Homo sapiens: one gene and its partner. The protein of the gene in region 1 purifies or fractionates together with the protein of each later gene. This does not show direct contact. Each region holds a gene or a part of one and is shown in the gene's direction. Other genes may lie near its edges. The genes, in order: HMGCLL1 and VPS13C.

What was found.
Region 2: the proteins of HMGCLL1 (region 1) and VPS13C purify together in Homo sapiens (affinity purification with mass spectrometry; 2 studies listed by BioGRID and IntAct, with this or other methods). This does not show direct contact.

Annotation. Positions count from the first base shown.
Region 1 is NC_000006.12:55,436,084-55,443,397, reverse strand, and holds part of HMGCLL1 (3-hydroxymethyl-3-methylglutaryl-CoA lyase, cytoplasmic), read left to right. Parts: intron 1-3,838; coding exon 3,839-3,964; intron 3,965-7,314. UniProt on the Homo sapiens protein: Non-mitochondrial 3-hydroxy-3-methylglutaryl-CoA lyase that catalyzes a cation-dependent cleavage of (S)-3-hydroxy-3-methylglutaryl-CoA into acetyl-CoA and acetoacetate, a key step in ketogenesis, the products of which support energy production in nonhepatic animal tissues.
Region 2 is NC_000015.10:61,851,575-61,854,447, reverse strand, and holds the end of VPS13C (intermembrane lipid transfer protein VPS13C), read left to right. Parts: 3' UTR 1-2,059; downstream 2,060-2,873. UniProt on the Homo sapiens protein: Mediates the transfer of lipids between membranes at organelle contact sites. Necessary for proper mitochondrial function and maintenance of mitochondrial transmembrane potential.

The DNA of each region.
Region 1 (7,314 bases):
CATGATACGTGGATTCCAGATCCCAGAAGTGAATCATCCACATTTCGGGCTGAAGCCATTTCTCATCTATCCGGCTGATTCCTCTGACTTTTGCTACTTTATACTTTTTTGGGTATTTTTTCAAAACCTGCTTTTCTTGAAATGCTGACCAGTCCTGGTTAACTGTTTGCTGCCCCAGGGTACAAAGTTTCTCTAAAGTTAAAGCTGACCCATACCCCGGATTGATAAAGGGTGAGATAGATAAGAAACTCTACTTTAGGGATTTGAGAATCACTGGATAAGAGGAGATTCTAGGACAGAGATGATTCTGGTTTGATTAATTTAGGGAGAAGCTTAGACATTAGTCATTTGAAAAGGGCTCCAGGTGATTCCAATGGGTTGACAGGATTGAGAATAATGGAAATTTCTGACTCCTAAACTGATACATTCAGATCCACTGAATAGATCAGTTTTAACCTATAAGTAAAGAAATGCCCCTGCCTGTTTATATCATGGCAGACTCCCAGAGACGGGTCAACATCTTAATATTTGTCTTTTCCAAGTACTGAACAATGCCACAAATTTCACTTCTAAAGTATAATTCCCCATTCTTACTGCTTTGATTCATAGTAAATGAAAATTGTCCTAAAGGTACCAGTATTTTACTGCTGAATATGACTAAGCTTGTCAGATCATTATGTGAGAAATGTTGTGGTAATGGAAAGAAAGCAATAGAGACCTTCTCATGTTGGAGAGTATAAGAAGAAGAAATGGAGGTAGAGAAACAGTCTATCCTTTGTAAACTTTCCTTAGGTCCCAAAGAATTCTAAGGCTTTTTAAGGACTGTAGTTCTTCCTTTGTGAGATTTTGTAAGTATCCTTTTCAGTCTTGCAAAGGAAACTCTAGGCAAGTGGTTGAAAACCCACAGTCCCTTTGGCATGCCTAAAGGACACAGGAGCCAAGTGAGAGAGCTCCCAATGGCCAAATGTTGAACAGTTTGAGCAACAAAAGACATAAATTGGTATTACGTTATAACCCAAAGTGCAAAATAATTACCTATAATTAGCTATGAGTCCTCCCTAATATAAATACATGTTAGAATAAGTAAATAAATGAGAATGGACAAATTTTCCATACAGAAGAATTCAAAATTTTTGTGTAGATACTCCCCATTCTTTAAGTGTGAGCTACGCATAGTGACATTTTTCCAAAACGTACAATACAGAAAGACTGTGGGGAGACTTTATAGTGCAGATACCTGGCAGACACCACCTCAGCCAGACAAGAAAAGTTAATACCAGCCGTCATAATTTATATTGATATTATATATCCTTGATATAATGCTTTCAGGATGACACTTTACCTCTGTGGTCTTCTCCCAAAACTCTATAACTCCAGTCTTAACAGGAGAAAAACTTAGACAAACCCAAGTTGAAGGACAATGTACAAAATACATGACGAGCACTTTGGGAGGCTGAGGAGGGGGGATCACTTGAGGTTAGGAGTTTGAGGCCAGCCTGGCCAACATAGTGAAACCCTGTCTCTACTAAAAACACAAAAATTAGCCAGGTGTGATTGTGCGCACCTATAATCCCAGCTACTCAGGAGGCTGAGGCAAGAGAATCGCTTGAACCCAGGAAGCAGAGGTTGCAGTGGGCCGAGATAACACCACTGCACTCCAGCCTGGCTAACCGAGCAAGACTCCATCTCAAAAAAACAAAATAAAACAAAACAAAAACATGACTTATACTACTCAAAATAGTTCGGAGAAACTGTCACAGCCCATAGGAGGCTAAGGATACCTGACTACTAATGTGGTATACTGGTGAGCTCCCAGAACAGATAAAAGACACCAGTTTAAAAATGTCTTTAGAAATGTCATTTTAAAAGTCTAAAGAAATCTAAATATTGCATGGATTTTAATAAAAACTTGCCAACATGTGTTCTTTAGTTATGACAAATATACCATAATAAGATCTGACAAAGAAGCCAAACTTCAGTCAGATTTCTAAAACTTCTCCTAAGCCCACCTCTTCATTTCCTTGTAAAATCCAGTTTTAGCAATTCCTACTAAATTAGCTTAACAAGAACCCCTATAGTCAATATCCAAATGCCCGATCTGATTAGGTCTCTCCTCCTCTACCAACCCGAAGGTCATGTCTGATCACCCTATCCTGTCTTCTGCAAAAATCCTGGTAGGTCAGTTTAGCCAGAATTCCTTTCACTCCTGATGTTTTCTCCTAGTAATTTTTAATCCACTGACCCCCACCCCACTCCTTGGCTATAAATTCTCACTTGCCCATGCTGTATTTGGATTTCAGCACAGTCTCTCTCTCCTGCATTGCATGTGGTCCCTGTACCTACTGCAATGTTCCTAAATAAATTCATCCTTGCTGTGCTTTAATAAGTATCATTGAATAATGTTTTCTGTAACAGATGTTAACCATAGAGAAAACTGAGTGTGCAATATATAGGAATTCTGTTTTATCTTCACAAATTTTGTGAAAATCAAAAACTATTTTAAAATTAAAAGTTTATCAAAAAAGTAAAGAAGGGAAGGAAGGCAGGAAGGAAGGGAGAAAGAGATTCCCACATGAGCAGCAGCTGTCAGAATCTTGTCAAAATTTAAAATTCTCAAGTCGCAGCCCAGACCTTCTGAGTCAAAAACTCAGGGAATGTAGCAGTAACCTGTGATTGAGAAACATGATATAGTTGGTTGGAAAGAGCTCTGCTTCCAGGTGCTTCTCATTTTAAATGTGATCATGTTACTTTTTCTTTAATGCCCAAGAGTGAAGAATCGGATTAGGCTTTACTGTATCTTCTGATTACCGAATTGTTACCTTTCACAGAGGAATGGCATGCCTGCCTCTGTTCTTCTCATATTATTAACATTTGAACTCCGGGGCCCTTCTCAGACCCTGTTGTACTCATGTCTTCCATAACTTCTCCGGTACACAGAGAGCTCTTCCACCTCTGATATCCCCAAGTGCATAATCATGTACCAAATCTCATGTTTCCAGAGGCTATAAATCAAAGCAGAGTGTAGATTCCCTGGAGACAGAAGATTTCACCTACCAGATAGTGACCTTGGGTAAATTGTTTATTCCCTCTGTACCTGAGTTTTCTTTCTGAGAACTGGGGATGATACAAGAGTATCTACTTCATGGATTTTGGGGAGAATTGTGAATTAATACACATAATTTGTTAATAACAGCATCCAGCACTTAGTGAGGAACCAATAATGTAAGCTGGCGTTACTGCTGGTGGCAAGTGTTTTGTCTCTTAAATATTTCTTCCTTCTCCCAAAGTAGTGGAGTTTTGTGTGCAAAACAATGAATGTCTCAATAAAGATTTGGTGAGTTGAATGGGTAAAGTGAGCCCACAAAACCCTATTTCAAACCCAGTGACTTCTCTCTCCCCTGCCCTCACATACCAGTCATCTAAGGCATTTTGATGTTGAAGTAGAATGTTGAAAATATTTCATGTTGCTTATAAAATGCTTTTAGAATAAAGTTAGAGAATTGGATAATATGTGAAAATCTGGAGTAAATTAACCTTACTCTAAGCTTCACCACCTACAGTTGAGCTGTTACCAACGAACAACACCATTTTACTTTTGATCAAAGATTATTCTAGCTCCAGAGAGCCTTAGCAGAATTTCTGTTAGCCTCAAAGACGAGATTAGACATAAAAGAAATAAGCACCCTGGGGACCATTCTAGAGGCCACTGGGTAAGTGAATATATTTGAATAACCAGTTCAGATTTTGCTTATTTGCAGTTTACCATAGGTTAAATAGAAATGCAACAATTTACATGCCATAAACACACAAGCTTTAGGTGGTTTGGTTTGTTTTCCAGATGGGAATTAATGTGGTGGACTCCGCAGTATCCGGATTAGGTGGCTGCCCTTATGCAAAAGGTGCTTCTGGGAATGTAGCCACTGAGGATTTGATATATATGCTTAATGGCCTGGGGCTCAATACAGTAAGTTACTTTAACGTATTTTAATATTCATGCATTCCTTGCAGCTCCAAATTGCAAAGCTTCTAAGATGTGGGAAGCAATTTTGAGGTCAAAGTTTTACTACACTTTTGCTATTTGCTAAAATGCACAGTGGGAAAATGCAATAAAAATTCTTTTGGGGTCTTTATAAAGTAACTCATTGCTATAGCTCAATCACCAATAATGCTACCATTTCACATTTTTATAGTGCTTCATGACCTCTAAAGAACTTTTTCATGTATTATCTGATTTGATTTTATACACTTTGTGAGTTGGAGCCTGTGTCTTTGCTGTTACGATTGTTGAGTTTTGCAGTTTTGTTTTTTGTATGGATGTTTTTCTTGGAGAAAATGGAGATCTTGATTGTCTCAGTGACAACTGTAGCTTCTGGAAGAACTCCCAGGGCACTTTTTAAATGATCAGTGAAAGAGGGGAGCTTCATAACACTTAGCATATGAGACACTGGATGGCAAGAATAGTCTCTTTGCAAGTTGTACCGGAAAAGTCACGTGCTATGTAACCACATCCACCAAATTCAGCACCTTGTTTTGCCCTATGATTGTTAACACAACCTGTTAGTCTATAGAACCGATTTATTTAGGAAAAAAATAAAAATCACAGATGATTAGACATTTAGAATTTCTGAGATGTAAAATAATCATCTGTATTGTAAAATGAATTTTTTTACTCTCTGCTGCTCCTATTCCTCCTTTTTCCTCATTCTACTTACATTAATGCTCCGGCTGCATTAAACTTGCTTCTAGTCTACAGTTCTGTACCATTTTATTCCTCACTTCTACTCCTTGCTCAGGTTTTCACTACCATGTGAAATGGCCTTATGCCTCGTATTCCATTTGGCCTGGAAAGTAAGACACCACCATCCTAAAAATAAGCCGTCTGGCATCTCCCTGCCTATCCCCCAGGTCAAACTGTTAGGTCCCATTCCTTAGTGTTTTCATGTTTTCCTCTGAACTTACCACAAGGTTATATAATTATCTTGTTTATGTGTCTATCTTCCCATGCAACCACAGAGCAATTATGACAGCTTATTCATACTTTATACTTGGTGCCTGTGGCATAAAGATGCTCCATAAATATTTATTGAAAGACTGATTTCACTTGGCACTAAACACCAACAGCTGTTGCCCATAAACACCAAAAGCTATTGCCTATTTTCTCTGGTTAGAAATAAATGTTATTTCATTTACATCGTATCTTAATCATTTATATCAGAAGCTAATGACATAAATGAGGGTAAATAGCTCCTTTCTTAGAAATTTAGATGACTGAATCGAACTCCATAGCTGATAGCTGATGCTTAATATATGCCAGTTATGTTCCATAACTCTGGAGTCCAAATGCAAATAAATCAAGTTTATTCCTAAAAATTTCAACATCCAAGGGTTGCTACATTGAGTAGCTGCCACAATTCAACTAGTCACCCAAGGCAACAAACCAGGATTCTCTATAGAATTTAATCTCACTATGGATTCCATGTCCAATCAGTTACCAAGAGCTGCTAATCTGACTTTAAAATATTTTGGTTGTCCTTCCCTTACTACCTCTGCTATGACTACATTGATGCAGGTCTGCATCTCTTTCCTGGGTGTTCATCCTATATACTGGTCGCTGGCTCCAGACTTGCCTTTAAAATCTATCTTCCATGCTACCATCAAAGGGTTACACCTAACATATAAGTATGAATAGGCTCTACGTCTGCTTGAGCAAGGATCAGTGGATTCTAATTTCCTGAAAGGAAGCCTGTGCTCTATCACATAATCTGGCCTATTATTACCTTTTCCAGGGTTAATGGTATATTTTGCCTTTATCCATATACGCCATGGATATTTAAGATATCTTGGACTGCTCTTCTCTCTGCCTGCATACAGTGCCCCATATATCCTCCATCCTCTTTTATACATTTTGTATAAACCTCAGGTCAGGCTTTACCCTTCTTGGCACTTTTCCCTGACACATTCCTTTCTGCATTTTTTTTTCCTCAGTGGGTTGATGGCCTCATATCTCTGCCTCCGTAATAACCTGGGCATATCTCTATTTGTGGCTTTAACTATGGTACAGAATTTTCTGTTGTGAGTCCACATTGCTTGCTTGAACTTGAAGGCAGAAACCACATTCTACGTGAGGTTCTTGAAACTCCAGAATCTATCATAGTATACGAGACATATTTAAGCACCCGACAAATGATTTAAGAATACATGCAGTGTTGTTTCATAATGATATCTACTGGTTAAATAAAATGGTAGAGAAAAGCCAAAACAAAATTCTTCTTTGGTGCGATATCAACAAATTCTACTGTATAATTGTGACAAATGGACTTACTGAAAAGAGAAGAAAGACATTAATGACAAAAATCTTTCTGTCAACCCTTGCTGGATGTAATTTATAAGTGAAAGGCACCTGAAGTTAATTGTTTACAGAATTTAAGTATCATTGGATTAAGGATGTTAAACAGATACTCCACGTAAAGCCGTTACCACGACAAAACCAACTTTCTCAAACCAAAGCAAATGTTAGTATCCTGAAAACAACTTTGTAATAAAAAGACATCATGAAAATAATTTACAAGTATCACTTTACAAAATATTTTTAATTCTTAAAGAGATAAGTAATTAGCTATATCGAAATGTCTCCAATTTCTAAAATGATATTCATTGTTATGAAAAGCCCCTATGAGTTTTTATACTTGTCTATTTTATGAAAGTGACAAGTTTTCATAGATATTAAAAAGTACTTTATAATAGCAAGGAAAACTGAATATTTTCAATTTTAAGCCCACATTGTTTCTAGTCCATATTGAGGGGGAACATAGAAGCTTATGAAATGCCACATAAGGGCAAGTTTGTGCTTAATCCACTTAATGCTTTGCCTCCTCCGGTGACAACAAAAGTGCTGGGTGGAAACTTTGATAGTGACCCTTTCCTTACACTAAAGCCAAGAGCATGTCCTGAACTTGCCCTTTATACCCAGCTGCATATCTGTCATCCATGGATTTACCTGAGCTTTTGTTGATCCTATTTATACTTTCAGACAGTACAACCTCTCAGGCGAACAAGTTCCAGATGTGTACTAAATACCACTTCATTTTATTTCACTTGCAACTACCTCCTTCAATATCATACTAGTAATAGTATTTCTGGCCTTGGTTTAAAAAATATATATGTATATATATGCATACACCTTTTCTGTAATCCTTATGGCTTTTTCAAGTTTGTTTCTTTATATAGTAAAGAGGATAGTTTTTTTTCTAAGTCAGTTCTTATCTATAAACTGCTCCAAAACATTATTTTGATTGTCCTTCGCTGATGCTTTGT
Region 2 (2,873 bases), on another chromosome or scaffold:
TCAGGGGCTCCAACAGGGAGAAAAAACAATCACTGGTCTTGTCTATAAGTCACTCTGCTTTATCTTGCTAAAGACAATTTTTCAAGCAATCCTTTAGTTTTAGTTTTCTGGAATAGCTAGTATTGGGTTTTCTAGTTTTTTCACCTTTTAGTTTTTACTCTAATTTTGTAACCATGTATATGCTAGCAGTCCACTTCTACGCCACCACCCAAATGGGTCAGACCCTTGAAGAAACGTCACTTCAAACTCAGAATGAAATTTTCATTAATATTAAAATTGTGAAGCAAAGGTCAATAGGCTTATATTTAATTAAAGCCTTACTGAAGAATAAGAAATGAGCTTAGAATGACTAGTGTTCTTTGAAAGGTTTTTTTATTTTTGTTTTTTTGGGGTTTTTTTTTTTTTTGAGACCGAGTCTTGCTCTGTCGCCCAGGCTGGAATGCAGTGGTGCGATCTTGGCTCACTGCAATCTCTGCCTCTCGGGTTCAAGCTGTTCTACTGCCTCAGCCTCCTGAGTAGCTGGGATTACAGGTGTGTGCCACCACGCCTGGGTAATTTTTTTTTTTTTTGTATTTTTAGTAGAGATGAGTTTCACCATGTTGGTCAGTCTAGTCTCGAACTCCTGACCTTGTGATCCGCATGCCTCAGCCTCCCAAAGTGCTGGGATTACAGGCATGAGCCACCACGGCCCGCCAAAAGGCTTTAACCCATGAACAAATGTTGGATCCTGACATTTTGTTTAAGAGTGATTTGTTCAATAATTGAACTGAGTTAACATTCTTGGTAAACCAGGTAATTGAATGAAGAAAGGTCACTAAAGGGAGAAATGACATGTTTTCTATTTTCTTTTCATGAAAACACTGTTTTTCCCCCTAATAAAGCATATTTTACTTTGGTGCTTATTTTTCCTCCTTGCAGTCTAATAAAAAAATCTGGACAATCAAACCTTAAAATAGCTACACTCTGCCCTCTGTAATGTAGCATTCATAAAAATTTGGAAGTATTTACATCCTCTTTCAAGATGAGCTTATATGACACAATTATTATTTGCTGATACATGAAAATACTGCACTTTAAGTTTCTCAAGACTCTGAAATATGTAAAATTCAATATTTTTATATTCCCAGAAATTGTTTCTTACAGGTTGAAAGTCTTTTAAGGGCATCACAAATTAACATTTACTCCTAATGCACGCCTAGAATGTATTTTAAATACTTACTAAGAAGAATGAAAATTCTTTGGTTGTTTTATATATAAATAAGGCATATATAATGACACTGTGTTCTGTGAGGGAGCAGGCCCTGTGAGAATCAATTCAGGACAGTATTTTTTTTTGTCCTTTCTCCATCCTTGATCAGAGATAAACTATTAAAACTTTAAAAAATACTCAAAAATATGTAAGTTTTTTGGTTGAACCTTTAGATTTGCTCATAATGTTTAACATAACAACATTTATTTCAAATCACTGAATTCATGGAGATGTGGACACGCTTGGTTTGCTCTATTTTTGTTTATGTGTGATAGTGGTTCTGTCATCATCATTCATGTTTTTTAAGGCCTGGTCATAAAACTTTAAATTTTACTAGTGTTACTTAATGTATATTCTAAAAAGAGAATGCAGTAACTAATGCCCTAAATGTTTGATCTCTGTTTGTCATTACTTTTTCAAAATTATTTTTTTCTGTAAAGTATAATATATAAAACTTCTTGCTTAAATTGAATTTCTATATTAGTGGTTAATTGCAGTTTATTAAAGGGATCATTATCAGTAATTTCATAGCAACTGTTCTAGTGTTTTGTGTTTTTAAAACAGAATTAGGAATTTGAGATATCTGATTATATTTTTCATATGAATCACAGCTGTTGACAATGTCCCATATATTTAAGAAATTATATCATACTGATACTATTTGTAACATTTTGATTTGATTTAATCTCCAGGGACAGAAATAATTCATTGGTAAAGTGTAATAATGCGTTTTTTAAAAATGCTTTGAGAGGTAATTACTTGCATATGAGAGAAATAAAACATTTGGCACATTGTTTACAGGTGTGAAAACTTTGTGGGTTTGTGTTATTCAAGTAACATTTGCTTTACTTTTTGTCTTTCCCTTTTCCTCTTCCAATCCCAAAATAGTGAGAAGTTATATTGATAGTTATGGAGGACTTTACAAGATACTAGTCAGAAAAGCTTTTTCTCAGGGGTACTGAGCCCCTTTATCACACTAGAGATCTGTGGCAGAGACCTCCAATACTGGGGGATTACAGAGAATGCGGTTGACCTAGGGGCCCAGCTGCACTTTGAAATCCATTGCTGTATTTGCATTGAGCCCATGCCTTCCGTGGTTTCTCTCAGCGACTGGCTGAGTATGAAGTTATACTAAGACATACTTAGTCTGGAAATTCTAGGAGACACAGAACTCCTCTGACAGCCGACTTTGGCTTGAAGACTCTTCAGTGGCCTTGCAGAACCTTTCTTAGACTGCATGGCAGTCTGGGATGTTCTACCATACCGCTGTCTTTCTCTTCTCCTCCCTCTTCCACATGGGGCTCAGACTACCAGTTTGGAAGGCTCACCCAGTGCTGGATTATCTGGTAGGAAGAATAAGTTCATGCTGAGGGCTGTAGCAAAGCAGGGGCATTAAAAAAGGAAAAAAAAAAAAAAGGAAGAAGACTGTACCCAAGCTTCGTAAGAAAAATGCCATCCAGGGTGGACTTACTTCCATGTGTTTTATGATTTAGTATTGTTTTTATTTTGAATTATGCATGAAGGAGGACACTATCATCTTTTTGGTGCTTTGAGTTTCTAAGTATGTTGATCTGGTGCTGCCTGGATATCTGTTTTTAACGAAGTTCTGTGTGTGTTTCTAATG